4 separate regions of the Homo sapiens genome follow, and all the other regions are reported to be linked to region 2. Evidence: microRNA targets listed by miRTarBase, many of them from high-throughput screens and not tested one by one. Region 2 holds a microRNA gene; each other region holds the end of a gene's coding sequence.

Evidence for each region. Region 2 holds the annotated microRNA hsa-miR-8485 (CACACACACACACACACGUAU, at 3,981-4,001, opposite strand). A microRNA usually pairs through its seed, bases 2 to 8, with sites in the 3' UTR of a target mRNA and lowers its output. Matches are read on the target gene's strand: a 7mer-m8 pairs with bases 2 to 8, a 7mer-A1 pairs with bases 2 to 7 and ends in A, and an 8mer does both.
Region 1: the mRNA of PAPPA is a reported target of hsa-miR-8485. Seed matches in the 3' UTR shown: 7mer-m8 at 3,782-3,788 and 8mer at 5,838-5,845.
Region 3: the mRNA of ELK4 is a reported target of hsa-miR-8485. Seed matches in the 3' UTR shown: 7mer-m8 at 4,244-4,250, 7mer-m8 at 4,246-4,252, 7mer-m8 at 5,864-5,870, 7mer-m8 at 7,519-7,525, 7mer-m8 at 7,521-7,527, 7mer-m8 at 7,523-7,529 and 4 more.
Region 4: the mRNA of STAG1 is a reported target of hsa-miR-8485. Seed matches in the 3' UTR shown: 7mer-m8 at 6,460-6,466 and 7mer-m8 at 6,458-6,464.

What each region holds. Positions count from the first base shown.
Region 1 is chr9:116,395,750-116,403,747 of GRCh38, forward strand. PAPPA (pappalysin 1) reads left to right here. Exons shown (of 22, transcript NM_002581.5): 22 at 760-6,572. The coding sequence ends at 867. It overlaps PAPPA-AS1 (PAPPA antisense RNA 1), which reads right to left and starts at 4,857. Exons shown (of 1, transcript NR_103711.1): 1 at 2,408-4,857. RefSeq lists an enhancer at 1-186.
Region 2 is chr2:50,692,192-50,700,410 of GRCh38, forward strand. It overlaps MIR8485 (microRNA 8485), which reads right to left and starts at 4,071; the gene lies at 3,981-4,071. The region is part of intron 5 of NRXN1 (neurexin 1); the gene reads right to left.
Region 3 is chr1:205,610,095-205,618,313 of GRCh38, reverse strand. It overlaps ELK4 (ETS transcription factor ELK4), which reads left to right. Exons shown (of 5, transcript NM_001973.4): 5 at 1,670-8,219. The coding sequence ends at 1,768. Among named protein-coding and RNA genes, the nearest start is that of ELK4, 18 kb to the left of the region's middle.
Region 4 is chr3:136,331,532-136,339,563 of GRCh38, forward strand. STAG1 (STAG1 cohesin complex component) reads right to left here. Exons shown (of 34, transcript NM_005862.3): 33 at 6,839-6,919; 34 at 4,705-6,746. The coding sequence ends at 6,723. Among named protein-coding and RNA genes, the nearest start is that of PCCB, 85 kb to the left of the region's middle.

The sequences.
Region 1 (7,998 bases), not on the chromosome of region 2:
CAAATTTGGTGCAAAACCACCATGCGATCTATTCCCTACTCAGGATTCCAAGCCTCCCAGAAGGTGGTCTAGCTTCCCTGAGACATGCTTTTTGTTTTCATCATTGCCTACTAAAGTCAAAGTGACCAGTATGTGCAGAGACTTATGTTTTCTCAAAAGACACTTCCACATCCTTTCTTTCACTTGATCACTTATACATCAGATATTCCATTACACAGTTCTATTAATCAACTTTGCTACAGTGCACGACAATTTTCCACCCATGATTTTACTCAGCTCCTATAGTTTAAAATACAAAGTGGGTCTTATTATATCAGCTCTACATAGGGACCTGAGGCTCTGAGATAAGTAAGTAGCTTGTTTTACTTTAAATACCAGACTTGACACTTATTATTACTTTTGGCAAATTCTTATTCCTTTCTGAGCTTCAGTTTCCCCATCAATAAAAGGGTGATTGTTGCAGCATCTGTCTTATAGAGTTGTCAAAAGTGTTTTCTTGTTTGGAAATCACTGAGTACATTGCCTTACCCCATAGCAAATGCCTGACCCATAGCAAGTGCCTCTGCAAATGAAAACTGCTGTGATTATGATCATGGTGTGCTCGATAAAAGTTATCACCAGGATAGCAAGAAGCAGAGCCATAACTTGAACTTGAACCTTCTGCTCCTCAAATCCAGTGATTGTATCCCTGCGCTGCACTGCCTTTCTGATCATTACTGCTTCAGACCAAATCACCTGATTCACTTCTTCTTTCTGCAGGTCACCCCATTCCCTATGTCCTGTGATCTACAAGGTGACTGTGCTTGTCGGGACCCCCAGGCCCAAGAACACAGCCGGAAAGACCTCCGGGGATACAGCCATGGCTAAGGAAGGACAAGAAGTTGTCAAAGAATTCCCAACGCCAGGACCCACATCCCTTTGGTATTGATTTCACAGTCAGCTGCTCAACGGAATGGCCTCTCCACACCAGGGATCCTTAGCACCCAACCGGTCTGCCTTTAATTTTACCCAGGAAGGACTCACATTGGGGCGAATGAACCAAGTTTCGCCATGCTGGATGATGAAATGGATTCCCATCCCAAAGTCTGAGATGGATTGCATATACAGTGTGCAGTCCCAGAGCCTCCTAAAATTCTAGCCATTTGTCACACAACCACAGCAAGAAACGTGTTCTATATCTAGAGTGTGCCCATCTGTGTTTAGTACACATGCATGCATACACACCCATACAAACATCTGTGTGAGGGCAGTTCTGGAGATGAGCAGAGAGAGACCGGAATAAACTCAATCTTTTCTTTCCCAAGCTCCTAGCCAACACTATCCTTGGGAGAAAGAAATTTGCAGAAACTGCTAAGACCAAGTGTGGAGATGTCAAGCTAGTTCACACTCTGAGGCTCAGAATATGTAGGACATGCACAATTGTGCAGTCCTTTGGGATTGGAAGTGAAACAGTCTGTGATCCCCTACCTTCTAGGGAACTAGGACCTAGGAAGAGGTAAAGATTATCAGGTATGCAAAGCGCCCCAATTCTTCTGCTGCCATGGGGGATTTTACCCCAACTCCAGGGTTCGAGGCCAATCTGAGAATGGCTTAGGATTGCAATGTCAAGGTATTATATCAGCCCCTTGCTTGAGGCTTGAGGTCATAATATCCCTCTAGGACTTACCTGTTCCCCCAGATCTTGCCTTGGGACCACATTTGCTGCTACTTTTCCTGCTGCTCTATCCTATACATTGAATAATCCAAGATGGTAGAACTAGGTTAGGAAAAATTCCACACAACCAAACAGTCTGCCTTAAAAGTGACCCACATTTTTCCATAGCTCCTCACTTTTTAGCCCTTCTGCAAGAGAAAAACCCTCATGGGTCCACATGGTGAGAAGTTAAGTTTCCTGTAAGTGGGCCTCTCACCCTGGAAAGGAGTTGAGGGACATCAGATGCTGGAACCCTCACTGAAAGTCCAGAATGTCTAAGCCAGTGTTAGATTTTGTAAACAAGTGGAACAGTGTTAAATTTCTATGATGTTGGAGCCATCCAGAGACTACTGGAATTGTCGAGACTTTTGGATTATTATCCTTATCCTTATCCTAATCTTCCTAGCCCTTCAGGCTAGAGTAGGCTTTGATCCTGAGAACCTTGCTGTTGCTCTGAGGAGATATAATTCTGGGAGAAAGAATCTTTTATAAGAACAGTACAGATTGTTCTCAAGAGGGCCATCAGAAGGAAGCCAAAGAGTTCACAGCCTCAGCACCAACAACTCAACATGGTCATCATGTTTTCTATATGGTTTTTCCAGCTAGCAGTACTCCCTTCCATACCTGTGACTGGGCAGTGCTTTTCTCTCTCCCATGTCTAGCCTCCAAAAGTTAAGTGAAAATTAGTCAACTGCACGTGGAAGCCCCCACCACTTTGGGGATCTCTTTATTTCTTTTCAGCCAGGGACCTGTCCACTCCCTTTGAATTAATATGGGAAGAAATTAATACAGGATGAACTGGAGAGAAGGGTTGAGTGTGGCATACTTTCTGAAACCTGGAGCTGGGAATTGCGGAGAAGGGAAGGTCTAGACTAGTTACATCACATAGGGATTACTGTAAATCAAGTCATCTCAAGTCTAGTGAAGACAGCCAACAGAAACAAAACCTAGCATAGGGATAGAAAATACCATGCACGTGTGCAGCCCCACCTAATTCCTGCATCCAAGGCAGGTGTTGTTAATCTATCATAGCACTTAAAAAAAAAAAAAAAAAGAGACCAAAAATAACTTTAGGAACCACCATATTATATCACTCCCAATAGCACTGACCTGGTGATCAAAAACACTTGAGAAGACATCTATTGGCCATCTCTGGCCAATTACACTAAGAAACATATCAAGGTGCTTTTGGCACAGGTGCCCACAAATACGGATGCAGTGCTGAGATAGTTTATGAGACTTGTACCATTTCACAAACTCTGAAATTGGGTTCCATATTGGCAAGGCTGCCACAGTTGTTAAGAATAATCCTCTATGTTTCTTCCTCACAAAACCATATCTCATTTATATCCAGACCATTACTTCACTATAATTACAAGGACAAATTATTAGCAAGAAATAAGAATAGTATTAGAAGAATTGATCCTATTTTGAACCCCTCTCCAGTATCTTCACACTCTTGTCAACTCTCCAGGCCTCTCTCTTGCCCTGAGTTATCAGCCTGTGTGGTGTTAACTACCTTAGAAGGTACAAGCTAAGAAATGTAACAGTATCAACCCTCCCAGTTGCTTAATTATACCCATAGGTAATACAAAAAGCTCTGAAGACCCAAAGATGACATTACTAATGATGTGATTTCAGGAGCCACAGAAGAACCTTACCAGCTTCCCTCAAATCAGTCCTTATCCTCTTTCTATCTTCACTCCCATCATCATCTATTTTCACACTATCCAGCTAAGCAAAGATTCCTGGAGGCTGACTTGTATCTTCAGACTCACAGAGTGAATTCAGCTCTTCTGAATCAAGACCCACCCAGTCTCTTTCATTCAGACCTGTTGCTAACAAATTTATATTTGCCAAGGATATTAGGCAAAAGAGGCTACTTGATTGGTGGCCAACCTCGTGCCCACATGGAAGGTATCTTTAATAGGGTCTTTTCAAACCTTAGTGGAGGAGGGTCAGCTCAATTTGGGCAATGCATTTGTTCCCAGTTTCATTTTCTTCCTGGGAATTAACTCGTCATTTCATTCCTTCAGTCATCTTCTGTGTAGGTGACCGGAGCACTGAGAGGCAGCTCTGATGCACTATTGTGTGTCAGCAGCTCAAAGGCCCTAAAACACTGAAGGTTCTGCATCTGAAGTATTAGATTGTTAGCAGCAAAATATGAAAGATGAGGTGGACAGTCCTCTAAGCCCTATTTAGGGAAGCTTTTCCAAGCCACAATCTTAACTACCTACCCAAAGGATTTGCATTACCCCCAGATTCTGTGCCAACAACCTTTTAAGGAAATACAGTCCTTGGGAAATGAGTTTTGATGGTGAATTGGGGTGTTAAGGAAGGGAAAGATTGTCATAGATGGTAGGGCTTTGAAAATGCAGGGTATCAGCTGCCACTCCTGGCTTCAACACATTGAGTCACTGCCTAGACGGTTCTCTTGGTCTTATTCCCATCCTGGCCAATGCTTAAATACTATTTGTTGAAAATAATTCTTTGAGACAGATTTCAGCTACCTCCCTTCCAGGTTCGATTTAACTTGGTTGTAATTGTCAATTTGTTGTTATAGGTCTTACCTGTGTGAAAGAAAGAAAAAGAAAGAAAGAAAGAAAGAGAAAGGAAATTATAAGGTCAAGTTAACAGTTTTGAGGTTTTGTGTTTTTTTCTGGAACTACTTCAAGTGAGAAAATAAAAAAAAATGGTGACAAAGCTGTACAGATAGAGATAATAGAAGACAAAGAGATTAAAAGGAAATAAAAATGCATGATTAAAAACTAAGAATAAAAAACCTATTTTTATGTTTCCTAAAGGAAATTGTTTATTCTACAGCCTCAGTAGGTAGACACAAACATAAAGATTTCCCTAGAAGACATAGAGTGGGATTTGATAACACTGTCTGTTATTTTCTGTACATTGTGGTAGGTCCAGGAAATATGACATTTTCCCCCTTGATGTGTTATTGTTGTTGTTGGGTGGGGTGGGCATTTTGTTTATTTGTTTGGTGGCAATCAGTGGTAGTAGGGAGTGGGAGGGCTTATATTGGTTTTTCCAGCTATTAAGGGGACATATTGTGTCGTTGTGCTTTTCACGTTATAAAATGTTTATATTTACCAGTACAGCACTGGGCTTTATAAAGACTGCACTCAGAACCACACTGCACAGTCCAGTTTTTTAAAAAGCTGCTACATGACAGACAGGTAATCCCACTGAGTGAGTTTTGAGAAACAAATCAAACGAAGTAAACAAGAAACATAAAAACCAAATAGCAAATGAATAAAAGCCTGTTCTTGTAACTTATTCAACTTTTGCCAAATTCCTACCAATCACTTGCTTTTTAAAAGAAATGTATAATAGCCAAAAGAGAAATTATGTCCCTGTTGTACAGAAGTTAGAATTTTTGACTCCAGGCAGCAGTTTGCTCAGTGATCTTGAACAAGTTATCCAATTGCCTCTACATTTGCATCAGTTTCTCTAGCTGCAAAATGGGGATAATACTATATACCTACCTCACAGTGGGAGGGCAGGAGATTTTGAGGCCCTGAGGTTTTAGGTGGGCTGTGAGGGCCAACGCTTGACACAAAGTCCATGGGTTATTATTCAAGAATGCACAGGCCCATCGGCCTTTTAGAAAGACAAGACAGGGAGTGCTTGTTTGATATTTCAAGGAATAAAGCCGGAGCTCCTGAATTGTAGTCCACCTTAAAAGAGAGACCTGTATTGGAGAATATTTTATTTTTTTGGCAAATTTGATCTTACCCTTTACCAGTTCTATAATTTGGTTAAAAGCTGATTATGTCCTACAATGTCAAAGTCAGCTAACTGTCGTCTACTTAAGACTTCTGGTCATTTCCAACTTATAGAGGAAGGGAGTCTCTAAAATCTCTTCTTCAGAAGGCACCTCACTTCTCAGACTTAAAATTCCACATCAAGTGTTCCATTAAAAGAAGATAAGGCATTCTGAGTGCAAACAAATGGGGGCTTCTTAAACTACACACCAGCAGTCAGTGAGGAAAACTTTGAACAATTATTGAGTTGCTTTCTTGGGTCTCTATAATCAATAACCTGTCTGCAGATATCTATCTATATAAAGATATTATATATAAATATAAATTTACATATATATGCACATGTATATATAGTTGTACATATATGTGTGTATATATATACTTAAATGTAATATTTACAAAATAAAACTGTGATCTCGTCTAGAGAAAATGTATTCATATTACAAACTGCTCTTCCATATTTATGTACCATATTATACCTTTTTATTATTGTTATAATTATTATGGGTATTTCTAATTAATATGATGTTGAAACCTGTTTGGCACCTTCTGGAAGCTACCAAAAAAATGACACTCCATTGAAGTGCTTAAAAGCTGTTCTCATAAGAATTCTTCTGGCCTATTGTAAAAAAGAAAAAAAAAAAGAAAAAGAAGAAAGACACAAAGAAAATAATCTAAACACCAAAAACTAAACACAATTCCAATCCTTTTTCTGTACCTCACGCGCATAAATTTGCTGCTCCTATTTTTTTTTCTGTTTATGTGTTTTTATGGATCTAAGTTAAATCTTTTGGCAATATATAAAAATGTAAATAGTAAACTTTATTTATTAAGAATGTCATCTTTTTTAATTTATATTTACACAATTGTTCATCTAATTTATTTTTTCTATACAGTTTTAAATACTCAGACATATTTTGCTGTTCATGATATTTTTATCCTGTTCTCATGGATTTGTTTTCCCATACTGTTTTCTCTGATCTCAATTACAGGTTGGATCTCACAAATAATAATGTCAGAGACAGAAATATTTTGCCACTGTTGATTACTATACTTTAAAGTTCTATATTATGAAAATATATAATAGCTTGTACGCTTCAGTGTGTTGTTGTGTGGTTTTTGTGTGTTGCGGAATGATAAAGGGCTGTCATATATACACGCTAACATGGAGAGAGCCCTGGGGCCTGGAATTAGACAATCAATGATAGAACAAGATTTTATCCAATATATATCGATTCCTCTACAAAATTAATTCCTGAAAGTATCTAATTTTGCATATGCAAAAACTGAAAAACTTTCTTACATGTTATAAGAAAGTTCTGGGGAGCTAAAGCATATGTCACTCTTGGTTATATATTGCCTTTTGCACACAGCCTTTAATAATATACTTCCAGATGTAAACACTGGTATGGTCCAAAGACACAAACCAGTGCAGTGGTTCCCAAGTGCTAAGCTGTGGATCAGAGCTAGTTCATAACTAAGTTTTCATTTGTCTAAGGCAAAATGTGGGGTCAATTGTTCATTCTTGTGGAGTTCTATCTTTTAAGATGAACTCTTTCTTACTCTTCCGGTATTAAAATGTCATATTTTATATACATATATACACACAATATATGCATATGCAGGCTCATATATACATATATATATATATATATGTATCTCCACACACACACACACACACACACACACACATATATATAATTTTACATATGTGAAAATGAGCCTGCAGCTGGAACTGAAATGTTGCTGCTTTCAATCTGTCTAGTGTATCTCACTGTTCATCTTATCACTAGGTAGTAGCTATGAGATTTTTAGAAAATTATTTAATGGCTTTAAGATTTAGTTTTCCCATATGTGATATGGAAATAATAAAAGTATTTCATAAGGTTTTTGCTAGAATTAAATGAGATAAATATGCAAAGTGTTTAGAACAGTGCTGAACATATTATATTATCTCATTATGAGTAGTATGAGACCAGAATTACTTATGACAAGTAATAATACACTAATTTTTCTGATATCTACTTATTTTATAAGATAATAGAAACAAAATGCATGAATCATTCAAGAGCTTGCACAGGCATTTTATGTAGTAAATTTATTAGCACTGTCCACTGAGCTGCTAGCTGGCAGTACCACCATAAGGCAGGTCAAAATATGTGTTTATCTGCTGATAACTACATTTTGAATTTTTCACAAAAAGGCTGTGTGGGAACATCAATGTGAATTATGTGTAAGGGCAGGGATAGGGAAGTCAAGAACTACTCATAGTGGGGTGGCTTTTTTTTGGACTCTAAAAATATAACTCATGGAGAAACATTAGGGAGACTACTAAAAAAGAAAAAAAAAGTCATTGCTAAATTCTTCCAGATAACTGGTTATTTTCAAAGTAAAATAATTGACAAAAGAAAAATATTTTACACAGTTCTATTCAATGTGAAGATTGAAACAACATTTAGACAATAGGCTCCTGAAAAGAGGCAAATATTTCTCAAACAGAAAGATTAAAAGATGAGAGTTTTAATG
Region 2 (8,219 bases):
TGAATAATCCTCTATAAGAAAAGCAGGCTCTATTTCATAAATGGAATAAAATGCCTTTGAATATGATTAGAGATTGCATCATTATGTCATCCTGTTTTGAGCATCATTCCTTTTTTATTTTCTAGTGGTTTCTATTTTATTGTTACTTTGTGATAACACACTAACATGCTATGTGTTGTATGTTAGCAGTAATATTATGTGCTTGTTTTTAGATTGTTCTGGATTTATCTTTTCAAGGTCAAAACATTTCAGTCTGCTTAAGAAGCTACTCTGTGGAGATTTTTTTTTCATAACTTCTATTTCTTTTTAATTCCCAGACATGTTTAAAATTCTAATCAGAGTGTGAAAGCCACATTCAAATATGATATAACACAGAGAATCAAAATCAATCATCTACCACAACTTTATCCCTATTTTATGATCCATCAACAAAAAGCTATTTTTGTAATCTCGTTAGATTTGCCAGCAATAATGACCTAAGATTAAAAATTGGGGAGGGCTTTTTTTTCATTTTCTCTTTTTCCCCTTGGGTAGTATGATTCACTCTGTGGGTACTGCACTTAAACAAGTATTCACACCCCCTCTGATCTGTTCTTGTCAGCTTTTTCATGTTAGTACAACAGGAAAGCACCCCATCAATCATTGTTTCTTCATCTATCAGTCAAAATGTTCATTTTGTGACTATTGGTCCTGCATCCCAATCTGTGACAATCTATGAGTGTATATTTAATTTAAAAAGAGCAATGTGGGAAGACACAACACTTTAAGTGAAGTTTGTAAATGAGAAGAGCTAAATTATCAGTTACTGTGTCAATGTTATTGATGGGTGGACTAGAAAAATACCTACTGGATGCAAAGTCGAGAAACTTACTGTAAGCCCTACCCCAGTCCCCTAAACCCATTTTGCTGCTGAATGCTGACACTTGAATAGTTTCTGATAGGCCAAGGTTTTTCGTATCACAAGGAGAAAGTAGATTTAAAAGGCAAAAATCCAAAGGAGAGAATACAAAAGGAAAAATATAGATCCTGTGGGCAGATTTTGGTAGAGTAATTAACAGAAACAGAGTGCTTAATGCCAATATGCTAAATACTAAATGCTAACCGAATAACTATAGGAGGTAGACTGAGGTGCCAAGATTGGAGACTGGTGTGGTAAAGGCCAGCTCCACTTGACAGTAAGAGTCGGATGTTAAACAACTTGCCATAGCTGCCTCCTGACTTCTTGGAGGTGTTTTTTTAGAATATAACTGTGGTCCTTTGGTCCACTATACCTAGGGACTTTTGGACTTCCTCCTGCCTACAATTGCGTGCAAAGGTCAAATAAACTGGCAAGGAACAAAATGTGAGACCACAAATGCAAAAATGGCACAACTGCACTACTGAAATAAATACGTTGAATCAATGAACTCTGATATTTCTGCATTAAAATGCAGCTTGCAACCACTAACTGCAAAGGAAAATATGAAGGGAAAATAAAGAGATGGTAACTAGGACCTAATATCTATATTACTAACTCAACTTCAGAAAGTTGGTATATTTTCAAAATTGCAGATATGTCTGCAACCTAAAGTATACTTCATAGCATTTAATTAATTAATTAATTTTGAAGTTTATTTTAGAGGCAGAATCTCACTCTGTTGTCCAGGCTGAAGTGCAGTGGTGCAACCGTAGCTTATTGCAGCCTGAAACTCCTGGCATCATGTCCCCCTTTTACCTCAGCCTCCTGAGTATCTGGAACTATAGGTATCCACTACCATGGTCGGCTAATTGTTTTTATTTTTTGTAGAAATAGGGTCTTCCTATGCTGTCCAGGATGGTCTCAAACTCCCGGCCTCAAGGGATTCTCTTGCCTTGGCCTGCCAAAGCACTGGGATTATAAGTGTGAGCTACCACGTCCAGCCCATAGCATTTTATTTTGAGGTTTAGGGACTAACGTGTGTATGATTTAGCAAGTGATGTTTAATGGCATTTTAAAATAATGGGTACCAAATAGAAACGTATGAATTGTTACTTGAATATAATTAAACTTTGTAAATTAATGGATTAGACTAGAAAGAAAAGATTCCAGAAATTTGAGGGGAAAAGGTAGGTTCTAGCACTGTCTCTTACATTTACATATTCTGTCTGTTTGGGCATGTTATTTTATCTTTTTGCATCGGTTTCCCTCTTAATGTATGGGTGAATATATAATAGTTGGAATTAAACCATAAATCAGTCAACTTCTAAGCTGTATACTATAAAAAACATTTGATGTAAATAATAAAACTCCTTGGAATCTGTCCCTCTTTGTGTCTCCATAACCTTCTATATTTGTTAGTTGAAATAATTATTTCTAAGTCTGAGGATTGTCCATTCAAGGTTGAACACTCAAGAAAACTGATTTATCTCTGTTCATCTCTACAAAGTCAGAATCGAAGAAGCATCATATCCTTTGGTTAAATTCAAGGTAGGGAAAAGAAAATCAAACCAATTCTACCAAAGAACAAATCAATTGATTTGATTATGAGTAGGTGGAGGTTACATTCTTTATCTTACTGAATTTGAGGTAAAATCGGTTAATCCTTTTATCCCCAATATTCATATTTAATCCAGAAAATGCTCTCTGGAACAAAAGTAATCATTACAAAATAAAGGCTTTATTCTACATTTTAGCAATAGTCTTTCCTTGGCTTATAAAAAATTAATTGCGGGGTATTCTCTTGATTGGGTACTTTAGATCCTGGTGACTGTTCTAACTGATGGGGCTGAAAGACAGTTCCCTTATCTCATAGCCAAATCACCTCCATGCAAATTGATCTGGGAGTGCCTTTAGAATAAACACAGCTGGATTCTCTGCAGCCATTTATGGGTCCAGTTTCCTAGGCTTAATTTTGATTTATAACTACTGAAATTAAATTAGCCATCTTCACTGCTTAAGGGTGGCTTTGATTTCACCAGTGCAGTAGGGAGACTATTTACCAACATATTTTATCAGTAACATTTCAACCTGGGTAAGGGGGTGGCGGTGGGGGGAAGGCATCTTATCTTTGGTATTTGTACTTGAGATTCCTTCAGAATATTTTAATTGTATTATTTACCGACAAATGTGAGGATTAGATTGTCAAATCAGACTCACATGAATTAAAGATCTTGCCCAGCATCAAGCTTTGCTAAATAATTTCAAGGATATAAGCTATCAAGTTCAGATAAGGTGCATCATATAACATAAAGTGGTGTACCTTATGTCATATGCTCCAGGTAGCCCTGCCTCATAGATCCTGGGTTCTATTAACTATGGGTAATCCCTTAGCCAGAGACATCTTGCTAGGGACAGAGATATAGTCTCTTATTCATAGTAAGTAACATTAGTCTATTTCCATTTGACAAAGAGATTAGACTAAGTCTTTGCTTTCCTCTAGGAGCACAAATTATTGTACAAAACGAGAAACAAAATTTGAGAGATTAAAATATGTGAAATATGTTAATAGTTCTAAGAAGGCTTTTATCTAGAACACGGTAATAAATGTCGACGTGCTATAGTAGGAAGAGTTGAAGATAAATGGTTAGATATCGCTTTTTATCCATATGACTTTGTGCATTAGTTTTTTGAGCCTCAGTTTTACTAATATTCCAAAGGATTAGGGAAATAAGCCTAACCAGAGTGACTCTGATTTTTTTTTTTTTTTTTTTGAGATGGAGCTTCGCTCTTTCACTCAGGCTGGAGTGCAGTGGCACAATCTTGGCTCACTGCAACCTCTGCCCTCCAGCTTCAAGCGATTCTTCTGTCTCAGCCTCCCAAGCAGCTGGGATTACAGGCGCCCACCACCATGCTTGGCTAATTTTTGTATTTTTAGCAGAGATGGGGTTTCACCATGTTGGGCAGGCTGGTCTTGAACTCCTGACCTCAGGTGATCCATCCGCCTCAGCCTCCGAAAGTGCTAGGATTACAGGCAAGAGCCACCACACCCAGTCGACTATGGAAATTTTAAAAGACAGTACATATACGTGTGTGTGTGTGTGTGTGTGTGTGTGTGTGTGTGTGTATGTATACACATATGCTATATACACACACACACACACGTATATCACAGAACTGAAGACCATAAAATGTTCTATACATATGAAAAAATGAGAATTTGAAATGTACATAATTCTTCACACAGATAGCTGACAGTGTTATAAATCTCCTTTCTTATAAATAAGAAAAACAGTCTCAGAAGTAAGTAATATTCTGATGGAGAGTTAGAAAAGAAAACCTGTCTTACAACTCTTTAAACATGCTTCTCCTCTAAGCTAAATCATAGTTTGCTAAAGAAGGTCGTGATAAGGTAGAAGAAAGACAAGAAAAGCCAAGGCAATGGGGTGAAGCAGGCGGAGAAAACTGTTTATGCCTCTTCTTCCAATGTCTATTTATTTTCTTTGTGGTTCTGAGCAACTATTTCTTCTTTTATCTTGCAACTGTCAAAGCAGCTCTCTGTAGAGAAACCAGCAAGCACACCCATTAAAACCAAAGCATGAATTTTCGGGTGAGGATCAGTGAGGCTCTCTTAAGAATACCTGAATTTTCACAGAGATAAACATATTTATTTGATTTAAATGGTAGAAAGTGTTAATTACTAAGTTTCATATACTACCAGGAGTCATAGAGAAGTCATTTTGGAGACCAAGAGTATATTCCTAGACCATGTAATCACATCATTTGAGTAGCTGCTTACTGAGTTTATTCACAATGAAAGCCTGATACATAAATTCTTTAAACAGAAACCAGTGGCATTGTTAATTTCCACTTTTGTTTCCAAATTGTTGCTTTTGTCTCATTGAGAGCATATTACTTACTTCAAGCACCTTAACAAACAAAGCTGGGTCATACACAAACGTCCTACTGTACCAGCAATAAGACAATATGAATACCCTGCAACCTCTCAACAACCAGAAGACAAAGATGTATTTGGAAGGGGCAGATGGGAAGTGAAAAAGAGAAATAAAATATACTTTACAGGGAATATTTTGCACACGTAATTCTGAGTGTTATATTTTTAGCTTGTATAAATAAACTTCATTAGTCTTCATTTTGAATATACAGGAAAAGTTTTTTTAGAAAAGACTCATTGTCACAAGCTGATAAGGTAAGTTAGGACAGTATATGATTAATATGCTACAATGATGTCTAAGAGAGAGGATGCTCATTAAATTTGTGTGTGACAAAAGTTGGAAAGAGTGTTAAGACCTTGAAATACTGGAGCATCTTTCAAAGTGAAACTTGACAAGTTAGAGAAATGGTCAGATAGAGAAATGGATTTTAATCAGACTGAAAGGAAAATTAATGTATTGGTTTTGTCAGTTGTACCTTCATCTTGAACGTAATGACTGCCTGTTACTTCCTCTGTGGTTTCATCCGAACCTAACGCGACACTCCCCTGAAAGGTCTCCTCTCTCCCTTCCTTGCTCTTCTGTAGCCCATGCTTCACTTCTCAACTATGGTGATGTTTTGAAGATGTGAATTAGATTACATCATTCTTTTCTTCAAATCCTCAAATAATATTTAGAATATAATTCAAATCCTGGGTTGCCATGGTCTACAAGGCCTCAAATAAAATAGGTTCTGCCCACATCTTTGTTTCATTTTCTTTCTTTTCTCTGCCTCCAGGTTGGCACTTTTGTTCCTTTAACTCTTCAATTTACCTTGGTGCTTTGTACCAGCTGTTCCCCCAAAGTAGACAGCTCTCCATAGCTCTTCACACGGCTGCACTTCCTGCTACTCTCACTTAAAGTCACTGCCTTGAGCCAATTTCGTTAATCTGGCTCTAAATAACAACACAACCCCATCTACACTACAGTTCATCCTAATACCAGTCTAATTTTCTTCATAACACCTATCATTATCTGAAATCATCTTAGTTGTTTCACTTTAGAATCCTCCTTCTCTCATGAGAAAGTAAACATTGTGCGGGCAGGGTCATGGTCTTGTTTGTCCTGTACTTCCCACCCGTACAGCAGTGCTGGCACTTAGTAGGTGCTCAGTAGATATTCGTTGACAGTATAAGACAGAAGTCCTCAAATGTTGTCCAAGGACATTTGGTAGTCCCTGAGACTTTCGGGAGGGCCAAGGGCCAAAATCTTTTTCATCATCTCACAAATATACAACGGTGCTGTCTAGAGGCCAAAGGATATATGCTATCACAAAAGATTGCCTGCAGAAGTAGTTGTGAGAATCTAGCTCTCTTAAGCCAAACATCAAAGAGATTGTCAATAATGTAAAATAAGTCACTCTTCTCACAAAATTATCTTAGTGTTGGAATATAATTATTTTTCATAAAAGTACACAATTTATTTTAACATGCAACATGCAATGTGGTGGCTATTTTAAAATGAATTAATAAATATATAAATGTTTTCTCAGTCAATTCTCAATAGAGTAAACACTAATACATATACATAACCTATACAACAAACATAAACTTCTCAGAGGTTTTCAATACATTTAAAAAGTAAAAAGGGATCTTGAATCCAAAAATGTGAAAACCACTGAAACAGAATCTCATCAACTAGTCTCCATTATTCCCTAGAAAACATCCAGTAGAACTTTCTTCTCCAGTTAAAATTGCCCTCAAAGAAGGTTTTCTCTTTCCTGATATCCATGCTTTTGCTATTCATTGTTTATGAAATGTCTGTCTGTTTCTCTCTTTCTCATTTCTCCATGTTTGAAGTACACTTTAAAGCTGTCCAAAGTAGTCTTTTCCATGAAATTTGACTCATAGCTCTACCACAAAAAGTTCTCTCTATATATACCTTTAGAGCATTAAGAACCTATACTACCAATTGACAATAGTATTGTTAATTATCTTCTCAAAGTGCCTGTAAATCTCTCTAAAGGCAGAAACCTCTCTAAAGACAGAGACTGTCAGACAGTCATGGTGCAGCCTGTATGTACCATGCAGGAAACACAAAATGATAGCAGGATCTAGCCTCCAACAAACTCTTTTCTCTTAAAACCTAGTATGGGATGATAAAGATTAAATGGAAACAAAAGCATTGGTTAGCTATCCACCCAAAAATTAATATTCTGGCAATATTCACACCTTATAACTTTTGGGATTCACCACCCAAGGTAGACAGAATCCTCACCACCACCAGCAAAGAAGTCCAAATCCTAATTTCCAGATCCTGTGAATATGTCCTTAAGACGTAATTAATGTTATAGATCTAGAAACAGAGGAATGATCCAGGATTATCTGAGTGGATCAACTCATTGCATGAGTTCTTCAAAGCAGGAGCTTTGTTTGGAGCAGGAGAGAAGTGGCAGAAGGGGAAGTCAGAGACATCTGAAGCATGAGAGGGACTTCACTTCCCACTGCTTGAAGACAGAGGAAGGGGCACCTGGAAAGCATGAAATGGAATGAGGGCAGCCTCCAACCAAAATCCAGGCCCCCTGCTGACAGCCAACAAGGAAACTGGACCTTAGGCCCACAACCAGAAGGGAGTGAATTTAGTCAAAAAACCCGAATGGCTTGAAGCAGACTTAGCCTCAGAACTTCCAGAAAGGAACATGGCCCTGCCAACACCTTGCCTTTGGCCCAAGCAGAGGACCTACCCTAGACACATGATACTCAGACTTCTGACCTACAGAAGTGTGAAATAATAAATGTAGTCTGTTATAAGCCATTGTTGGCTATTTTTACAGCAACCATAGGAAAGTAATAAAGCACTCATGGCATGTTCAATTCCAATAGCCCTTGCAGCAGACACACAAAACCACCAACTTCCTCTAAGCTCCAAGTACTGCACTCTGTCCACTCACCCTGCTGCCTTCTTTAACTTACAAATTATGCACACAGTAGGTATGTTTGCATAATTAAAAGATAAGTAGAAGAACTAATAGTCTTTAAAAAAAATTGTTCCTTTAGTTGTTCTGAATATATGTTTGTCCTTTGATAAAGGACTCTTTGCAAGGTTTCCGTATGACACTTTATTCTTAAAATTTTTGAGCAGTTAATTTAAAAGTGAATCCAAATGGATATCCAAATCTAAAGTCATCTAAACTGTTAGTAGTGTCAAATGAGATTGCTCCACCACAAGCTCCATTTGGAAAAGTAACCAGCACCTGACCTACAGCTGAGTTCCATGTAATTTAGTTGTCAAAGTGATGGAGCACAACTCTTCCATTTAATTTCTATGACATCTGTATCAACTTGACTGTATCCTTTGCTGGGCCAATGGCAATTTTTCTGGACAAGATATGG
Region 3 (8,219 bases), not on the chromosome of region 2:
CATGCCTGTAATCCCAGCGCTTTGGTAGGCCGAGGCAGGAAGATTGCTTGAGCTCAGGAGTTTGAGACCAGCCTGGACAACCTAAGGAGACCTTGTCTGTACTAGAAATAAAAAAAATTAAGTTAGGCATGGTAGCACGTGCCTGTGGCCCCTAGAGCTACTTGGGAGGCTGAGGTGGGAGGACCGCTTGAGCCCAGTAGATCAAGGCTGCAGTGAGCTATAATGGCACCGCTGCACTCCGGCCTGGGTGACACAGTGAGACCTTGTCTCAAAAAAACAAAATCCACACACACACACTCTCTCTCTCTCTCTTGCTCTCTCTCTCTCTCACACACACACACACACACATATATGGGGGATCTCTGCACATAGGTTCCCTCTTTTAATTAAAGATTAAAAAAAATTTTTTTTTGAGGCGGAGTTTTGCTCTTGTTGTCCAGGCCAGAATGCAATGGCACGATCTCAGCTCACTGCAACCTCTGCCTCCTGGGTTCAAGCGGTTCTCCTGCCTCAGCCTCCCGAGTAGCCAGGATTATAGGCATGTGCCACCATGCTAGGCTAATTTTGTATTTTTAGTAGAGACGAGGTTTCTTCATGTTGATCAGGCTGGTCTCAAACTCCTGACCTCAGGTGATCCGCCCGCCTCAGCCTCCCGAAGTGCTGGGATTACAGGCATGAGCCACTGCACGCGGCCCAAGCATTTTTTTTTTTTTAATAGAGAAAGGTCTTGAAAATGGTATATCAAACAGTCCCATTTCTCCCTCAGTCAGAATTGATAATTTATCAACATTTTATATGTACATTTTTAAAAAAATGAATATTATCTCTTCACCAAGACGTTAGGAAAGTTCTTGCCATTCCTAATGGGTTTAGCCATTATTTTGCCCAAAACACTTAGATGTTATAACTTAAAGACTTTCTTGGAGTCAATTCATTTACTTATTCATGGTTGACTATCTCTGATTTTCTTATATTTTGTAATTTAACTTCTCATTCTTTTAGAAATGAAATGGTAGGGAAAAAGAGGAAAATTAAAAATCTCTCTGCTTTTTATTTTTTGCCAACGTTTAAAATTATTGAATAGAAAAAAAAGTTGAGAATTTTTCATATTTTTTTTCATTGCCACACATGAGCAGATAATTGAGTTATAGAGTCAGCTGAGACCTTAAGCAAAGTCATAGTGCTCCTGTAGCTTCAGCCTGGAATCTCCCTGTAGAGCTGGCCTCAGAATACTTGATGGGGAACCCTTTTCTAGGATGAGTGCTATTTATACCTTTCTGGATCTCTTTTTGAGGGTTTATGATTTGCTCCATAATTGAATTACACTCTGTAGTGCATATTGTCATTTACTTGAACTTTCTAAAACCTTCATTTGAGGTTAATTGTAAACCTGTGTACCTTAGGATATGAAGGAGGGTACAGGTTGTTCTTTGTTTCTACTCCATTGAGGTAAGTTGGAGAATGTTAATATTTAATATGTTAGGACAAAAGATTTTTGTTTCTAGTTTTTGTTATGACATCATATTCTTTCATGATAAACAGCCACTGCCTTTGTCCTGTGAGCCATTACAGAAGGCTGTTGTGTTTTGCCTCAGGTAATAGAGTAGGATAGAAAGTAAAAGTTGGGGTTGAGTAATAGGATGATAATGTGTTTTGTTTTCTTTCTCAGTTTCCTTCTGTACTGAACAGTCATGGGCCATTCACTCTGTCTGGGCTGGATGGACCTTCCACCCCTGGCCCATTTTCCCCAGACCTACAGAAGACATAACCTATGCACTTGTGGAATGAGAGAACCGAGGAACGAAGAAACAGACATTCAACATGATTGCATTTGAAGTGAGCAATTGATAGTTCTACAATGCTGATAATAGACTATTGTGATTTTTGCCATTCCCCATTGAAAACATCTTTTTAGGATTCTCTTTGAATAGGACTCAAGTTGGACTATATGTATAAAAATGCCTTAATTGGAGTCTAAACTCCACCTCCCTCTGTCTTTTCCTTTTCTTTTTCTTTCCTTCCTTCCTTTTCTTTTCTCCTTTAAAAATATTTTGAGCTTTGTGCTGAAGAAGTTTTTGGTGGGCTTTAGTGACTGTGCTTTGCAAAAGCAATTAAGAACAAAGTTACTCCTTCTGGCTATTGGGACCCTTTGGCCAGGAAAAATTATGCTTAGAATCTATTATTTAAAGAAATATTTGTGAAATGAATTGGCATCTTTAGGACTAAGTGTGCTCTGTTGAATGACTTAAAGTGAGCTGTTCCTAAGCAGTGGAAGAAGAAGAATCATTCCTATTCATACAAAGTAAGATTGGAGCAGTCATACTGGGGAGATTGTTTTGTGTGAACTATAACGTGTAAGCAACTCCATGAAAAGGCATCTTGTTTACCTTTATTCAGGGTGGATCTCTTAGCCATATGTATGATCCTGTCTGAACCTGTCAACAGAGCATGGAGCTAGTCTATTTCACTATAGAAAGATTTTTAGACCTGGGGTTTAAGACAGTTTTTGGAACACCTAGTAAGAATATGGGACCTCACATCTAGCACAGAAATGCTCTTTGCCCTCTGGGTGGTATGATTATATGCCCATGGAATACAGCATGGGAAATGATCACTTTTAGGAGGATGAACTTGGATTTTGAATATTTGAAACATCTCTGAGTAAAAGATTCGATCAGATAACTTGAAACAACATGTAGTGGTTTTCTCAATTAGAAGATAACCAAGTGAAGGACCTGTCTTTTTCCTGTTCATTTTACCTCATTTTCTACTATACATTTATCACCTTTCCTTTATGTTTAAGGTTGTTAGAGGTTATGATAGTTTTAAAGATGCAGTTAGGAAGGTAGAATTCAAAGTGAAGCCTCCCCAGTCAGGAGCGAAGATGTGCTTATTTCCTTTTTTTTTTTTTTTTTTTTTTTTTGAGACAGAGTCTTGCTCTATCACCCAGGCTGGAGTGCAGTGGCGCGATCTCAGCTCACTGTAAGCTCCGCCTCCCGGGTTCAAGCAATTCTCCTGCCTCAGCCTCCTGAGTAGCTGGGACTACAGGCATGCGCCACTACGCCTGGCTAATTTTTGTATTTTTAGTAGAGACGGGGTTTCACCATGTTGGCCAGGATGGTCTTGATCTCTTGACCTTGTGATCCGCCCACCTCAGCCTCCCAAAGGCGCAGGCTCAGATGTGCTTATTTCTTTCAACTTTTTTTTTTTAAATGGGGAAGAGCAGAGTTCATTTGGGAATGCTTATACATAGGGATTGGATTGTTCATATTAGTAGTAAAAAATGTAGGCCTTATTCTCTACATTACCAAATTTTTAAAATATTACTATATGGTAATCAATGCCAGGTACAGATTTGTTGGTTCCCCAAACTGAATTGATATCAGTATCACAGTGGAGTCTTTTGAAAATTAAAGTCCAGGATTAAATTATATGTTGTCACCATTCACCACCACTACCACCCTCCCCCACCAATCTCTCCCACCGGTTAAACTCGTCTTCTAATCCTGTAGAATCACATGAACTAAATGAAGAAGTAAGAACTTGAAGGCTCAGACTGACACTGTTACAAACTAGCATCTTCAGATGCATGGTATTTACTTTAAATGTGCTTATATACAGTGTAGAGAAGCTCTTGTATAAGAAGACATCTATGCTAGCTAACTTAGTAGTAGTAGAGGGAACATATTCAGTGAGCTGCCTTTATATCTGTAGTGTCGGAGACTTGTTACTGGTTCATTTGTGGTTATCAGTTGAAGGTTCTGTTCCTGAGATGTGCAATAGTAGTGTTGAAAGGTATTGTTTAATAGTGATGGGGAACAGACATATTGGACTTTTTTTTCCATATTAAATTATTTAGTTTGCATGCCTGTTTGAAATTGGACCTCTCAGCAGCACTTTGAAATAGTTTTAATTAGGTTAACATTTTGTACATTAAATAAGTAGATATAGATGGTTGATTTAACTAGATGTGTTAAATTTTGAAAGCACAAAGGTATTTTATCTTTTTGAATTAAAGGAGAAAAGCCATTGATTTGTTTTCACAGACAGTATTTTTAATAATTAACTGTCTCAGCACAGAGGTACCTTGGAACCAAGGGCACCATTGAAACTCAGTTGAAGCAACTTCCTAGTAAACCATTTTAGTGAGTCCTTTTTGCATAAATCTATAGCCTCTCAGAGGTGTGAGGCTGTCACAGATTGGTGATCTGCTATCTCTTTGAGATCAACTAATTTGGAGAAGTGTGTGTGTGCGTATCCTTTTTTAAGTCAAAGTTTACAACCTTACTGCAGGTGTATGAGGCAGACAGTTCTGTTTATAGACTACCTCCTTCCTGGAAAAGTCTCAGCTTCATATTCTGTTGAATATATGCAGAATTCTTAGTGTGAAAGGTGATGTACCACTTCAGATCAGTTTTCACTGGAGAGACTTGTAATTGGTAGCTGTAGCTCGTATCCATCCCTAGTCACTTTGCCAGGATGAATGCTGTTGGGCAGCAGTAGCCTAAGTTACGGAAGGGGAGCAGATTGAATGGGGTTTTGAGACATCTTCTCTGATACCTTAGCTTTCCTTCTGCTCTGGTCGCTATCCACTCAGTCGTGTGCTAGAAATGTTTAACAACCAGGATCTCTGGGGTGGGGGTGGGGGGGAGCGCTGAATTTGTAGCATTTGCTGCAAATATAAATTATAAATAAAATTCTAATATAAATTAGAATTTTATATCAAATTCTTTGATATAAATTAGTTACTCCTCCTGTGGCTGATTTCAAGCTACCACCTTAGAGTTCAGAAAGGATGTGCACAGTTGGCTCAGAGCCAGTGCTGGCAAACCATTGCATTTACTCCACCCAAGAGTGGATTTTCACATAATTTCTAAAATAATTTTTTCTTATTTATATACTGACTTTTCAAAATACAAAATTAAAATATCATGTCTGACTTCAGTGATCTTTTTCTTTTTCTTTTTTTAGAAATGAGATCTTTCAGTAATCCTTTAATTTAATTTTTTAGAGATGGAGTCTTGGTGTGTTACCCAGGGTGGACTCAAACTCCCGGGCTCAAGTGATCCTCCTGCCTCAGCCTCCTGCATAGCTGGGCTACAGGCATGCACCACCACACCTGGCTTAGTAATCCTTCTTTATTAATGGTTTGTCACAGTACGTTTGTGATGTTATATTGCTCATGGCATACTTTATGTGTTCGAACAAAGGTGGAAATTTCCATTGATTTTTTTTTTTTTAAATGTATGCACAAACAATCTGGATTTTGAGGAGTACGGTCAGGAAAAAAAAAAAAGAATTAGAGGCCCTTGAAAGGTCAACCGTAAGCTTCTTAGAGTTAAAATATGAGTTTAATTTTTTCCCACATTTTGACAGTTGAAATTTTGATAGGGACAGTAAACCTATGAGCCTCTATTAGGCTACTGGATTTTTTTTAACTGGAAAATTCCTTGAAGATTTACATACTATATTACAGATTTTAAAAGTCAAGACTGACTTAAGTAAATCAGAGGTTTGGAATTCTGGAGCTGTAACTCCAGGCTGTTGATAGTATCACTTCAGTTCCATTCACCCCTGCATTGTGTGACGTCCAGTCTGACAACATTGTTTCATCCTGATCTGACTTTCTACTATGATTCTTAAGTTCTTAAAGGTGTCCTTTTATGTTTTTGGTGAATGTAAGCACATTTAGAGCCACTCAGTACCACTTCTCAATACCTCTGAAGCAGTGGTTCAGAAAAGGAGTGTCCAGCCTTTTTGAACACACAAATTGATCAGTAAGAGTTATTGAACATAAAAACTTTCCCTATTAAAAATTCATATGGGTATATGTTAAATTATATACCGCTATACCAAAGTAATATGTGTGTTATAAAAAAATACACAAAAATTGAAGTGAAGGATGGCATAAAAAGTAATTCTTGAGTAGCAGTTATAGTATTTTCTTCCCACACCCCAGTTGGTTGTCTTGTGCACCCTCCAGAAGCACACGCTTTTCCTAAAGACTGCTGACTCAGGATATTCTCATTCTAATCTCCAAACATATATGATGCTCTCTTATGATATATGGAGAAATCCTAGAGATTTGGAGTTTTTCAGGAGAGCTTATTGTCAACTTTTGAAATTTCACATTAATTCTTTTTGATAAATTCCCAAATAATAATCCATTACCACATGTTTTCCACAGCTTTATTCCTATTACTTTCGTCAGCCTGTTGTCTCTTATCTTCATGTTAGGTATGACTCTATTTTTATTTTACTAGTCTGCTCACAGACTTCTTTGGGACTTATGTTATATTTTACCAACAAATTTAGAATTATTTCAAGTTGCTTTATGTTAAAATATATAACAAGTTACATTTTCTTGCTGCATTAATAAGTTTTTGATTTTTAAAATCTGATATTTCAGCAACTAAAGGAATACTTTTCTTTATAGGTCTGTTCTGTTTTTAACCTCATTGACTGTATATGTTTTATTTACCCGTGCCAGGAGTCTAGAATCGTGCTTAGGTGCCATTCTTAGGTATGAAAACAAGTTTGGAGACCAATGCAGGTCTCTGTGCAGAAATCTGGGGCTCTAAATGAATTACCAAACCAATAGGAAAGTTAAAATACTACTCATGATGTAGTGTGTCATCTGAAGCTATGATAGAATATATTATTTCTAAAATAGTATTGAGAAGTTAATTGTTCAGTCCATAGTAGTGTAAGTGAAGTGTGGAGGTCAGCCATAGTTGTCTTTCTTCAGCAGGTACTCTAACCAGAGACTGGGTTCTGTGGAAAATAGAATTATATTCTTGGTTTGGGATCAACAAATGTTTTGTTATTGTTTTAATGTTGCTGGCATTGCCTGAAACAAAGTGCCCTGTTATTCCTCTTATGTCATCAGAACTCTGCTTACTGAAGTTGAAGTTTAATCTTAGGATCTAGAATTCTTGTGGTTGGTCGTGTATTAAGAAAAGAAGGTGGTTTGATTTTATTTCTTGTACTTGGTGGAACCTGTTACTATACAAGTCATGTTTTGACCTGTAAGCCGAGCAAATCTGAAAGGTGAATCGTTAATGGTAGTATAATTGTTTCATTTGAAACTGTCAGTTTCTTCAAGTCACTTCTCTGAAAAAAATTATGATAGATTGATAGCCTGCCAGAAAATAGCAATTTCTAAGGTGCTGCCATCCACACTTACTTATTGTGAAATATGAAAATCCAGAGTGGTTTGTATGAGAGGGGAAATACTGGCTCTAAGCTTTCTACAGAAAACAGGAAATTCATGCTGTTGTTGACATAATTTTAAAGGAAACTTTTAACAAGAAAATTCATGAGGGATACAATCAAACATAGTTAATCTCTTGAGTGCTAATCATTTGAGTATAGTCCACATCAGGAAGTTTTATGAGGTTGAAAACTTTACTTTGAAATATTTAATTGGGAGACTAGACCATTTCTTTTTCCAAGTCATTCTGATTTATTGTCCTAGTAAATGTATGTGTATGCATATATACTGATGTATTGACTGAATGTGTGTGTGTGTGTGTGTGCGCGTGTAAATCTGTTTTCATAGGGAACATACATTGATGGCTCCTAGTCTATTTTATACTAAAACTTAAAAAAATTTGCTGCACTTTGCAGTTGCCACTTTTTAAAAGATTAATGCTTTGCACATTTCAGTAGGCCTTAAAGATGAATTGCTCACCAACATTTTAGAAATACACTGCTTACATGTGACATACTCTAAACAAAGTCATAGTAAACTGTTCTCTTAGGTTCATGTATTATTGAGCAAATAAGGATGTCCTTTCTTAAAATTTCTACATTTATGTTTGCTTTTGTGTAAAATCTTTATTAGTTTGTAAGTTTCTCAAAGAGGAGGTTTATACTGGAAGCAGTATTTCTAAAGTACAGAGATTCGACCATGGATTGAATACAGTAGTGGAGGAATGCTGGTATTGTGGCCTAATTTATCCTTTTAAACTGTATGTCATTAGTATTAGCCAAAACCTCAGAGTGGAGTGTCTTGGGCTGAATGATCTTCTCAACTTTGCCTTGTTTCCCATCTCATAAAGGCTCCTTCTGGTTCTTTTCCCTTCCAAGGATTGTGAGTCATGCTCACATAGGCCTGGGATCTTCTGGATGGGGTCGGGGAGGAGGTGGGGGTTTCCTGTGGCTGGCCCAGAGTTCTAGCCAATGGAATCATTCAAGAATGCCTAAAGTTCAGGGGT
Region 4 (8,032 bases), not on the chromosome of region 2:
CACACCACTGTGCTCCAGCCTGGGTGACAAAGCTAGATTCTGTCTCAGAAAATTAAATAAATAAACTTTCACCCAATAATTTTAGTATTCATTGATGATTTTTGCCTCAATCAATGATTCTGCATTGATTATAAAATGTTGAGTTTCTAACTCTCTCATATTTATTAGTTGGAACTCTAGGTAAGGAAGGGAGCTTTCTTTTCTCCTGTTTTTGTTTTCTTAGTATCATTTTGGACTTGATTTATTTTATTTTATTTATTTATTTTTTGAGAAGGAGTCTCGCTCTGTCGCCAGGCTGGAGTGCGGTGGCGCAATCTCGACTCACTGCAACCTCTGCCTCCCAGGTTCAAGCAATTCTCCTGCCTCAGCCTCCCGAGTAGCTGGGACTACAGGTGTGTGCCACCATGCCCAGCTAATTTTTGTATTTTTAGTAGAGACGGGGTTTCACCATATTGGCCAGGATGGTCTCGATCTCTTGATTTCGTGATCTGCCCGCCTCAGCCTCCCAAAGTGCTTTTAATATATCCCACTGATTTTTTTAGTATTTCGTTATTTTCTGACAAGATAATGCTCTAGGCTTATCTTGTATTTTCCTTGCCCAGCCCAGGAATCAGCAGTTTCTCCAAGGAGTTTCTTTAATAGGTATGTAGTAGTAGTATATAGTAGTTTCTTAGTTTCTTTTAGTAGGTATGTCATTTAGAAGCTAAAATTGGCACTAGGTATTCACACTGATACTGGATATCATTGCTTTGAGGCATTTCAGCAGACAGAACTAGGAAAATTTATGCAAATAAGTGTGTGTATATATATGTGGGACACATGTATATATGAATACATATTTATCATACTTTTAAATCATGAGTTCATACTGAAACTTTTAATCCAACACCATGGGTGCTTCTTTGCCTTCCCCCATTCTGTATTGTCTCTCTTACCACAGCAGTAATAACCCTGGCTCCCATTATTCTCAATATATTTCACTCATTTGCTCAGTGCTACCATAAATACAAGTTTCAGAATCACTACAGCTCTATCAACAATAAACCTTCTAAAGTTCACGACTTCTTTGTAGTTCATTTTGTCTTTAAACTGAAGATACATGGTTAAGCTACCTCAATTAGTAACTGAGTGGTTATCAATATGAATTAGTCCTTTTTGTTTGTAAACCACTTTAAAGCCTTTCCTCCTACACTGTTGACTTGATTTTACTAAGTTAAAACATTAATAGTTTTACCGAACTGGAGATTAAGTTTGAGCAGAAGTACCAACCATGGAGTGCTGATCCAAGATGCCCCCCCACCTCAGGCATCCTCTCTGGTGAAACCCCAGGGCCCTCCCACTACTGATGGCTTTCCCTTGGCTCCAGAGATCTGTAAGCACTGCTTGGACAGTGAATCATTATTTCAAGGTCAACTTAATGTGTGACTGTTTATTCTCCACTTTTCCCATTTCAAAAATATTTTCCCCTACCCCCCATTCCCAGTAGCCCTTAAGAGTCATTCTTTTTTTTTTTTTTTTTTTTTTTTTCTTAAAGCATCTTTCCACTCTCCTTCAGTCACCAATCCTAGTTGGGCTCTGAGGACTTTTGCAGCAGTCTCTTCACTGATCTCTGTGGCCTCCCACTGAGCTGGAAGTCCTGTTCTCAGCTACCATACTAACTCCAGATCCAGATTTTGTTGCATTCCTCTGCTCCAGCGCCACTTCCAGAGCTCCCTGTTCTCCAGAGTCCTTAGCCCACGTAGGTGGTCCTGGACAGTCTGTCCCTCCCTTGCTTGCCTAGTGAGTTTTCTGAGCCCACAGTTCTTGTTTTCGTGATCTCTGCTATGGTCCATAAAAGAGTACATACAAGCTCTTTTTTTTCTTTTTGGAGGTAAGAGTCCAAGAAGTGTTTCACCAGGTTGTGCAGTCTGGACACCGAGATGGTAGAGGGGCTGTAAGATGGTAGAGGAACCAGCTCAGGAGAGCAGCTGGGCTAGCAGCTTTACGGAAGCCTTGGATGGTGGGGAAACTCCCGTACAGAAACTCAGCTGGTCAAAGAAACTCAAAGCCACAAGACCTTGGAAGCTTTGTCAAGTGGACCAGCCTCCATGGACCACGGAATACCTTGAGAGTAATGACAGTTGAGTGTTCTCTTGTGTGGGAATGCCTTCCCCAGCTGGTGCCCTCACCTTAAAGGGAAAAAGAAAATACACTGAATTTTGTAAATGGGAAATACTTGGGTCCACTGAGCTGATAGCTGACAAGTGTCTGTCTTTAAACTGAGAGCAGATAATATGGTGAGCTGTGGTGTAGGAAGCACTGCTAGGGTCTTGCTGGTCCTGCCCCGCCTTGTGTTAATCCAGTTCCTCCTGAGCTACACAGCTGACAAGTGGTGAAGCTGGGATTTGAACTCAGATGGGTTTGACCCCAGCCAAGCCTGTGTTCTGATCATTTCAAAGTACTACCACTCAGCTGATGAGGAAGGTGAGATGGACTTCTAAGGGTTGGCCTAAGAGTAGGGGTGAGGGAGGTTGGTGGTCTGTTCCCCTGGGCTTGTCTTAACCCAGAAAGCTACTACATTTAGACAGCTTTCCTATCTCCCGCATGATTCTCTTGCAAAGCAGTACCAACAGATGGCCAGTCATCTTTTTGAGTTGCTAGAGTAATGGGGAGCACATCCACAATACACCCTTCTAATGCTTGTTAGAAAGTGCTTTTGTTGCAAAGTTCTTCTAGCTTCTTTTTTTGACCCTGTCTTGGTCTCCCCAGCCCAACTTTCTGCCTCTGGTTGCACTGATACTTTGTCCTGGTGCTGGTGCTTAAGATGTGGTCTGCTCAGCCAAAGAAGTCTGTGAAGGATACTCACCCACATGTGGAGTTGATGAATCAGCCCTCTTCACCTATTCAACAGATGTGACTGTTTTGTCTTTCTGGTTCCAAAGGATTTCTGGAGAGCTATGACTTTACCCTTTTAGAAGTATTGGTCCTCATACTCTGTGCACCTCTGATGTCAGCATGGGATTTCTACAATTCCAAGCAGGAGTTGCAGCCACTTGATAGGCAGTGCCTCAGTCTGGGGCCTCTGTGGAATCCAGCTGGCATATTCCAGCCAATGTGGCAGCCTCAATAGTTAGTTAAGTTTTGACCATGTCCCTACTGTCCTGGGTGGTGAAAATACTCCCTTTATGTGTCCTTGGGAGCAGAAAGATGCTCTTCAAAAAGTGGTGCCTGATGGAGATCTCCACAGAACAAGACACTCAGAAGGGCAGGGATAGAATCTTACCTGAGCTTGGTCTAGTATGAAAAGCCTAAGGCTGGGTGCGATGGCCCATGCCCTGTAATCCCAGCACTTTGGGAGGCCAAGGCAGGTGGATTGCTTGAGCTCAGTTCATGACCGGCCTGGGCAACATGGTGAAAGCCTGTCTCTACTAAAAATACAAAACTTAGCTGGGCGTGGTGGTGGGTGCCTGTAATTCCAGCTACTTGAGAGCCTGAGGCAGGAGAATCTCTTGAACCCCAGAGGCGGAGGTTGCTGTGAGCTGAGATCACACCATTGTACTCCAGCCTGGGTGACAGACCGAGACCCTGTCTTCACTTACCGCCCCCCCCCCCCCCCCGAAAAAAAAAAGGCAAGCCTGAGTGGCATCAAACCTTTGTTTCCCATGAATATACTAGTCCCTGCTTGATGGACTGTTACCTGGGAACAGGGGCAAACAGGGAGTTACAGTCAAGCCACAAATGGGAGATTTGCAAGCCTGACCCAAGCCTGAAAGTGCTCATCTAGTCTCATACTCTTGTAACCATCTAGATGAGCTGTTACAGACCATCCTTAAATGACCTTCCTTCCTTGGCTGTCTGGAAAGCTTGCTTGCTGATTTGTCTCCCACACCTTTGCCTTTTTTGCATAGGCATATTAGGCCATTTAAGGAACTCACCCCCTATTGCCAGACCCATGAAGTGTGTAGGGTATGACTTCTTAAAGAAAGAGTGAGGAGGTCTAATGCCAAGAGAAACTTTTTAAGACAGTCTGGCTCTGTTACCTAGATTGGAGTGCAGTAGTGGTGCAATCTTGGCTCACTGCAACAACCTCCACCTTGTGGGCTCAAGCCATCCTCCTACCTTAGCCTCACGAGTAGCTGGTGTGCGCCATCATACGCAGCTAATTTTTGTATTTTTTGTAGAGGAGTTTTACCATGCTACCCAGGCTGGTCTCGAACTCTTGAGCTCAAGTGATCCACTCACCTTGGCCTTCCAAAGTGCTGGGATTACAGGCGTGAGCCACCATGCCTGGCTGAAAACTTCATTTCTGTAGCTGCATTGACTCTATGTGGTCTTCAAAAGGGCACTGCCAGGGTGCAATTATGCATGTAAGCCCAGAGTCTCAAGCCGTGAGGACCCATGCTACAGGCCAGTGGATGGGTGTTCCCTGAATGCCTCATGCAAAACTCAGTTTGCAAGAGACTCCCTCTTAAACCACAGATGACTTGGCCTACACACACTCCAGAGAAATCTAAGGAATGAAAGAAAGTGAGCTATTCCTAAATTCTGCTTTCTTAAAAAAAATTAAAAAGCCAAAACAACAAAACCACCAACTCACTAATAAGGTTAACTTGCTGCCATTTAACAGATTATCAGAAATTGCAAACTCTCTCAAGAGCCACAGGACAGAAAATCATCTCTTTAAAGCCATACCTGGTAGAAACAATAGGATGACTACCACAAGCCTGATTTTGAATAGTTTATTAAAGGAAAGGTGAAGCATCAGTTTCAAATTGTACAAAAGGAAAAAAAACCTCATATTGCAAATGTACAATTTACAGAATTACTAGCAAAACCAATCAAGGAGACACCGAAAATACAAAAATTTGATTGACTTCAAACTGAACTGGAAACCCATTGGAGTAGATATTTAGCCTTTTTGTGTGGCATGGTAGTCTACAATTCTGTCAGCATCTGTTTTCCATACAAGACTGTCACGCAAAGGATCAATTTGTGCATGTGCCAGGGCACCTCATGGCTTGCTCCCTGGCCAAAACCACAGGCAGGCAGGGCTGGGGTGGACAGTCCAGTCATTCCTGCACCTTCACTTCCAGTGAAGCCCACAATTCTGGGAGAAAGTGAGGCCCCAGCTCCCCTAACTGGAGCCCAAGAATTGCTGAATTAGCAGAGAAGATATTTTTGGTGACCAGGTTTTTTTCAGAACTGTACAAATGTTGAGAAAAATGTTTTGTGTCTTTACTAAAAGGATGAATAAAATCATCCATCATCATCTTGCTTTCCCGCACAAAAGATGATCACTGGGTGTGCAGAATTTTAAAAAATGTTTTTCGTATTTGATAAAAAGGGAAAGCCTCATGATTCTGTTGCAGCTACTTTAAAAACCAGCCCAGAAACAGCTGTGGATGAATTGGTTTGGAAATTCTGAGGCTTACTTTAGAAATCAGAAAGGAAGAGAGAGACTAAGTGGGGTTTTTAAAACAATAGCAGCAAGTCATAAAAGTCTAGGCAGAATGTAACTCTAAACCATTGTAGACTGTCCTGAAGATTCATAATTTCTTTCCCCAAAAGAATTATTCTTAATATGCACATTTAACACTGAAATGTAGCTGTAATTCAAGGTAAGCTTAGGAACTTCACCCTCTAAGCACAGACTTCTATGCAGCACATACTTCTATAATCAGTAAACTTAATTCACAAAATTAGCGCATAAGGGTATTAAGTGCATGGGAAGTAAACACAGTTATGTTACACTTAAAATTACTTTTGAATGATTGATAAAGGATTTCTTCATGATTGATTATCTTAAGAAAATGGAAGTCTGTGTAACTTGAATTTGGCAGGGCATGAAATAAGTGGTAAAAACAGCAAACTGATAACTTGAGAATCATTTTCGTTTTACTGAGAATACTTTATTTGCTGGTAGAAGTTGCTAAAAATGCACAGAACAAATACCAATAGAAAATGCACTGTATTTGAATCTCCCTAGTCTATATAAAATGAACGGTGTACAGCATCTGTTGGAAAAATGGCTGCATGGACATTTCTTATTTTATGCCCACTTATAAATAAAAATAAACCTTTTATTCAAGAGTATATAAAATCTGGGAATTCATATCCATATCCACAGAGGGTGTGTGGTTTTTGGCAGAGATGTACTATGTCAGAATTTCATCTTAGCTTGTCAATGTTCTGCTCCTTCATTATTTGTGTTCCACAAAGGTCAACCAAATCCAGTGAACTCCAAAACACTCTTCGCAATTAGGATGAGCTGCTTACTCATAGGTTTAATAAAAATGGTTAGCTTTTAAAACATAAAAAGGCAAAATGTTAAAACGGTTTTTAAATTGTACAACAGGAAAATAAAGTTAAAAATATGTTTTTTTTTACTCAATGTTGAGTTTTCATAAAACAGGTGTATAACAGTGTTTATCTTGACAGCTGTTTTAAAAATTTAAAATTTCTTCCTCCCTCCAGAAAAACACACACATCTGTATTGGGATAAGTCCAATAGTAGGACACAAATGATTTTCAGGTCAGTCTTTCTGAGTTGACATTCACCAACATTCCCTTGGGTAATTTACATGCTCCTCTTCTGTCACTGCAAAAAGGGATTGACCTTAATCATTTGATTAAAAAACAAATCAGATCACATCAAAAGTGTTTTTCCCCATACAAGCTATCACAGTATATAGGCCTCTAGCTCTAAATAATAGAGTTCCAGATTTGTAAATTTTCTTCAGACTTCAGAACATAGGCATTCCAAATCCCTAGAAAAATGATGAGAAACATAATTATTAATTTCATGCATAAACAGGACCCAGGAACCATAAATAAAAAGCAGTAATAATTTGACATTTACTGAATCATCTTCTATGATAGCTGCAGAGTCAAAGAAGTCTGGCCTTAGCTCAGCTCTCTCTCGCCGATTTCTTGATGGAGGCTGGAAAGAGAAATCGGTTTCTTAATTTTTTTCTGAGATCATTAAGACAATGAATTGTGATAATCAGCTAATATTTCTGACAGTATCATAAATATATGGAACTGCTAAGAGTCAATTTTGAAAGGAAGAAGAGAATCTGGCTTTTATATGAAATAGATTTTTTAAAAACAAACAGTACTTTTGGCTTTTAATTATGTTGGCAAAAACAAGGCACAAAACTTTCAAACTATCATGAATAAACAACATGTTAATACATATAAATAACTTTGGGCCTACATGCCCAGGCCATATCTTCCCTTTAAAGTCACAGAAAAATTACAGAATTCATTAACTACTAGGTGATAAACCTCTGTGAATTCCCCAAAGCAGGTAGATGGAAAGTTATTGGAAGGTGGGGGCAGGGAGATTATAGATTGGAGTAATATGATCTCATTTATATTTACAAAACTTACAAAAACTTTTCATTATGGAAAATTCACAACATACAAAGCAAAATGTTACGGGCTGAATTATGTCCCTTCAAAATGTGCATGATGCTGAAGTCCTAATCCAGTACCTCAGAACATGCCAGTATTTGGCGACAGGGCCTTTAAAGAGGTAATTAAGGTAAAATGAGGTCATATGGGTGGGCCCTAATTGAATATAGTTGGGGCCCTGATAAGAAGAGGAGAGACACATATAGGAAAGACCATCTAAAGACAAAGGAAGAAGGCAGCCATCTACAAGCCAAGGAGAGAAGCCTCAAAAGAAATCACCTTCATCTCAGGACTTCTAGCTTCCAGAAATGTGATAAAAAAAATAAATTTCTGGGCCAGGCATGGTCGCTCACACCTGTAATCCCAGGTGGGCGGATCACGAGGTCAAGAGATCAAGACCATCCTGGCCAACATGGTGAAACCCCGTCTCTACTAAAAATATAAAAATTAACTGGGTATGGTGGCATGTGCCTATAGTGCCAGCTATTTGGGAGGCTGAGGCAGGAGAATCGCTTGAACCTGGGAGGCAGAGGTTGCAGTGAGCCGAGATTGCAGCATTGCACTACAGCCTGGCAACAGAGCGAGACTCCATCTCTAAATAAATAAATAAAAATTTGTTTACCCACTCAGTCTGTGG